2 separate regions of the Homo sapiens genome follow, and region 2 is linked to region 1. The links come from fine-mapping of genetic effects on gene expression. A gene starts in region 1. The other region holds a variant in brackets. All regions are shown on one strand. Distances are between the middles of the regions. Region 1 holds the start of CCDC70 (coiled-coil domain containing 70). Region 2 overlaps TMEM272 (transmembrane protein 272).

What was found. PIP is the estimated chance that this variant, and not a neighbour inherited with it, causes the effect.
Region 2: its variant is fine-mapped to the expression of CCDC70 in whole blood (TOPMed, PIP above 0.99).

Annotation. Positions count from the first base shown.
Region 1 is chr13:51,860,481-51,863,399 of GRCh38, forward strand. It overlaps CCDC70 (coiled-coil domain containing 70), which reads left to right and starts at 1,489. Exons shown (of 2, transcript NM_031290.4): 1 at 1,489-1,749. It also overlaps a transcript of TMEM272 not described here. RefSeq lists an enhancer at 1,091-2,290.
Region 2 is chr13:51,837,324-51,840,242 of GRCh38, forward strand. It overlaps TMEM272 (transmembrane protein 272), which reads right to left. Exons shown (of 5, transcript NM_001351003.2): 2 at 1,150-1,230. The coding sequence starts at 1,207. Among named protein-coding and RNA genes, the nearest start is that of TMEM272, 6.4 kb to the right of the region's middle. The variant A/G (reference allele first, on the strand shown) is at 1,693.

The DNA of each region.
Region 1 (2,919 bases):
CACAAAAAATTAGCTAGGTCTGGTGGCGCACGCCTGTAGTCCCAGCTACTTGAGAGGCTGAGGTGGGATGATCACTTGAGTCCAGGAAATTGAGGCTGCAGTTAGCCAAGATCATACCATGCCATTGCACTCCAGCCTGAGTGACAGAAACATGTCTCAAAAAAAAAAAAAAAAAGCATTAAAGGAAAGAATTAAAAACTATGCCTTACCAAAAAGAGACAGAAAAGTATGTGTGCATACATATATATATGTGTGTGTGTATATATATATATACACACACACACACTTTGTATACATATACTTTTATATAGATATATAGAAAAAATATATATATAGAAGTGTGTGTGTGTGTGTGTGTGTATATATATGTATATAGAAAAGCACATATATCCTTTTCTATATATAACCAAACAAATTCTGGAGACACAGTGAAAATTTCTGGAGAAATTCTGGATGGACTAGGGGTCCACTGACAGATGAATGGATAAAGAAATTGCAGCATGTATATAAAGTGGAATATTATTCAGTCATAAACAGAGAATCCTGCCGTTTGTCACAAGATAGATGAAACTGGAGAATATTATGCTAAGTGAAATAAGCCAGACACAGAAAGAAAAATGCTGCACAACTTCACTTATATGTAGAATATTAAAAAAATTAAAAAGAAGAAGTAAGAAAAAAGTCAAATACACAGACAAAGAATAAAATGGCAGCTGCTACGTGTGGGGAGTGGACGGGAAGAGGGAAATCAAAGGGTACAAAGTTGCAGATATATAGGATAAATAATTTAGAGATCTAAGGTACAACATGAGGACTGTAGTTAATAACACTGTATTAAAGATTTTTGCTAAGAGAGTAGATTGTGGGTGCTCTTGCTACAGTGCACAAAAAAGGGTAACTATATGAGATGATGGATATGTTAATTTACTTGACTATTTAAAAATTTTACTACATGACAAAAATTCTGGAGTTGAAAATGAAAAATTAAAGAGGGATTCAACAGCATATTTGAACTGACAGAAGAAAAAAATCCATGAACTTGTAAACAGGTTAATTGAGATTATCTAATCTAAGCAACAGAAAGAAAAAAGAATGAAGAAAAATGAACGTAACTTTAGAGACCTGGGGGACACACTCACGCTACTAGTATTCACATAATATGAGCCCTAGAAGGAGAGGAGACAGAGAAAATGGATGAAAGAATATTTGAAGAAATAATGGCCAAAAACTTCTGAAATTTGATGAAAAACGGCATCAAATCTGCATATCCAAGAAGCTCAACAATCTCCAAGTAGAATAAACCTCAAGACCAAGACACATCATAGTCAAACTATCAAAAGCCAAAGACGAAGAATCTGGAAAGCAGCAAGAGAAGTGATTCATCCCACACAAAGCCCCCACCAGAACATGACTTCCTAGAACCATGCTCCCGGAACCAATGCTGACAGAATCTAAGGTAACAATCACTTGTGAGTCATCAACAGCACTGCCCTATCAGTGAAGTCAAAGATTGAAGAGGAACTCTTTCAAACCTTTCAAGTGCCCCCTCCTTTCCTTAAAGTCTTTTATAGGGGTCCCCTTCTTGGCCATCTCCATCCTGTGAGTCAGGACTGAAAGGGCACAGACAGGTCACTGCCAGCATTGTTGGGGCAAGCCTGCAAGCACGCATCACTGGGGATCTGACATGACAATGGCCGCCTGCCCCCTCTGAGGGCTACAGGACTTACCCCAGTGGGAAGCAGCTAAGCAGTAAGTAACTGTTGGCTTTAGACTGTATAGTATTTGTTCTAAGCATAAGGTAATATATAATATTTTCCTTAAAAAGAAGCTCCTAGTCTTACAGTATAACTGAAAACTGGGCATGTATCTTTAGTGCATGTTTTTACAGCTATACAGATACACATCTACAGTTTTATATTGTACTTTATATTTTAATACACATCTACCTATTTGATATGGTTCTTATTTTCTTTCTTTCTTAAAGAAAGTTTAGTGTTCACTTGAGAAAAACTTGGAGGTGAATGTTTTCCAACATCCTAACCCAGTAGACGCCCATTCATCCAGCTACTATTTCCTGAACACCTATCCTGTGGCAGAACATTTCGCTGGATGCCAGACATAGAGATGGAAGATGAGGTGTTTCTAGTGGGACAGGAAGGGCACATGCTCAGTCTGAGCTTAGGAGAGATGGCCTGGAGGAGGTATCTGAGTGCTGAAGGATTCGCTAGGTGAACTGAAGTGAGGTTGGGCAAGGATATCCAGGGAGAGGGGGCCAGCATGACATGGAAGTGAGGGAGGACTTCACATATTGGAGGGATTCTAGGCAAAGAGCCATACAACATAGAAAATCAAATTTCCAAAATGCAGTTCAATTCAGTTCAATTCAACCAACATTTTCACCAATTCCCTCCTATATAGGCGGCGTTATATTATGATAGCTGCTGGGTTACAGAGATGTCAGGAAGACATGTCCACACCTAATTTCAATCAAGTGTGACAAGTAATAGTGGAGTAACAGACAGACAGTATCGCAGAGGTGGCGAGGAACTTTGTCTGGAGGGTCCGAGTAGCTTTCAGAGGGGAAAGGATGTACAGGAATTCAAGCCCACCACAGGAACAAAAGGGGCTCTCAGTAGAGGATGCGACATGTGCTTCACCACACAGGCAGGAAACTGCAGGCAGAGTGCCAAGAGCTGAATAGAGCCCGTTAATACTGGGCCTTAGATTTGGAGTTGGGTGCAGGCTGGGTAGGAAGGAGAGGGAGAAGCAAGCTGGAGTTGGGCTGCACAAGGCCTTCCTAGGGCGTTCAGCTTTGATCTTTGGGCTACAGGGTCTTTGAAGGTGTGTGAACTGATGTGATAGGACGAGAGAGTGTTCTAGAAAACACCTGTAGGGCTACAGTGCAGGGGCAGATGAGAG
Region 2 (2,919 bases), 23 kb before region 1:
AGCAACAATATAGCTGATGGTGTCTCCTTTCCCTGCCGGCAGTAAACCTATGAGTTTTCATCCTGCCAGAGCATCAGAGGCCCTGGGCAGAGACTCCAGCACCACTGTCCCACTCTGGCCCTCACAGCAGTAGGTGTGCTCCAGGGATGAAAGGAGGGTGGCCCTTAGAGCTGTCCCTGGGAGTAAAATGTCAGGGCTGTGCGTTAGGAGAATGAGATGGGCACTGGGCCCATCAGCGAATGGAGAAGGTCAGTTGTATCTGGGAGGTGGCTCTTCACTCATTTACCTGCTTAGTCAGCCAGTGCCTATTTATTGAGCTCCTACTGTGTGTCAGGCACTGCTGGAGGTGCTGGCATGCAGCAGTGCAGGAAACGTCATGGGAGGAGAAGTGGGAGGTGGACAGTGTGTGCTAGGACATGGTAAGTACAGGTAAGGAAAGGTGCCCAGGCACCCATCTGTCAGCCCCTTGTTCTGCTGACCCTCCACCTTAGTCCGCCACTACCCACTGACTGCAGCTTCCTGATATTAGTGCCTGGAGATGAGTTGCTTAAGGCTTCCCACAATGTTCCCTTTATCCACATTTCATCTGTAAAAGTTAGACCATACATCTCACCATGATGTAAAAGCTTTCATCCCAGGGACCCCCAAGGCCTGGGATCTGATTTTGGGATATTCCAAACACAAGACAGACTGGGTCTTCTGTAATATGGTCCAGCCCCTCTGGACAGAAAGGACCCCAGCAGGTGATAGTGGGGGAATATCCAATTTAGTAAGGAGACAGGTTGAGGTAGGAGTAAGGGAAAGCTACCCAGGTCCAAGGTGTCACATTGCCCTGCCGTGTTGCCCAGCACGGCTGCCATCATACACTGATTGTAGCAGTGACTCCGTTCACATGCATATTTTTCAAACACATATTACATGGAAAACACATACAGTGAACTATGGAAAACTAAAGATGAATTGGTAAGGAATGGAAGGAGAAAGCAGCCAACCGAGGGCCGGACACTGTCTTCCCCAGCTCTACCACCCTGGGGCCACCCCATACCAAGCACAGCCCACTCATATGATCCACTCCAGCTTTAGCTCATCGGGTGATCCCAGAGGTCTCAATCCTACAAAACCAGGGCATTTCTCAGAGTTGTGACTCACCATTGCTGGCGATTTTAGAAATGCACTGATGACACGTTTTCTCCAGACCTCCTGGCATTGTTCTTGCTCGCTGACAAAGTTCTGAGGATCAAAAATAATTCATTAGAAAGGATGGTGGAAGGATTTACTCAGCACCAATAACCAACCCTCTCTGTGCATGTCAGTGGTGGCCTGCAGGGTGGTCTCAGTCAGCCCGGGTGGCCTGGGTGCCAGTGTCAGGTGTGGCCTTGTTAGTGGTTAGCGGGGCTGAGAAAAAGACCCCCTATTCCACAAATGAGAGAACCAAGCTCAGAGAGGTTAAGAGGCTTGCCCAGTGATACCAGCCAGGAAGACACAGGCCTGGAGGGGGAGATGGTAACAGCTCTCACTTGCTGAGCAATGGCTGCAGCCAGGCGTTGTGTTAACTCTTTAAATAGGTCATCTCATATTTAATCCCACAACAATCCTATCTGGGAAGTGTTACTGACTCTGTTTTACAGATGGCGCCTTAGAGACCCTGAGAGCTTAAGATTCACCCTAAGGCCAGAGCTGGCAACTGGCAGA[A/G]CCCAAACTTGATCCAGGTATGGCTCCAGGTACAGAGCAAGGGCGCCCTCACTTCCTGACGCAGCTGCTGCACTCCCCAGGGTCCAAGCGGAAGAGGAACCATGGACTTGACCAGAGCAGCCTGGGTGGAGACCCGAGCGGCCTGGAGCACCACCCCGGCTCCCCTGTGGACCTGCTGTGGTCTGAGCAAGTTGGTTGACACTGTGAGAAAGGGCTTCCCTTCCTTGGAAGAAACAGCCATATACATTTTAAATCCACAAAAAAACTCCAGCTCATCAAGACGGCAAATTTTCCTGCCCGGTGAAATGAGGTAGCCCCGTAAAGACACTAGGAGAGGAAGGGAGTCACTTTGTTCCTGAGGCTGGGTGTGCGTAGTTCCACCACTTCCCACCACGTCATTGCTTGGGAGTAAGGCCTCCATGGGGGCTGGCTGATCCAGGCGGGATCTGGGGCAGGCATCCTTACTTCATACAAAAGTCTCCCCAGGAACCTGTCCAGAGTAGCCGCGGCTCCATTTAAAAGCACGATTTAACAAGGTCCTTGTTCCTCATACTGCAGGGGTTTGCAAACCAAGGGACCACAGCATTTTAGCAGCACTACCTGCAGGCCCTCCTGGGTGAACTAGGGCTTAGGGCAGGGGGAACAGGCCGTGATGGGGAAGATTTGTGGTCTGAGGACAGAGATGGTCATGATGACAGAAGGAGAGCTTGCTTTGACCAGAGCTGTGGCTCATAGCAGGCAAGTCACTCCACCGCCAGCGTCAGCATGGGCCTGCAGGCAGGAGCCATGCAGCCCGCAGCTTCTCTCTGCAGCTGATCCACTGCTAGCACACAAGCACGGTGGTTGGGCTGAGACTCGGGGTTCTTATTTCCCATCACTGTCCTTCTAGGACATGTCATGCTCAAAACTTGGCTTTATGTCAACAGGACCTTTATGGCAGGAAGCAGTGTGACCAGAGATAGTCAGTCCCCAACCAGAGGCATATCACCAGCGCCCTGCCAAGGTCTTCCACATGTTACCTAATTTAGTCTCCTCAGTTCGTATGCCCCATTTTACAGAGAAAACCAAGATTCAGATCAATTTGTTTGCTCAAAGTCACCCAGCTAGTAAGTGGTAGAACTGGGGTTTGAAATGAGGCCTCCGAGACTCTATCTGAAACCTGGACTTTGTGCCTTCAAAGCCCACAATCTCTCCACTTCACCCCAGAGCAATAAAGGGGAAGAAACC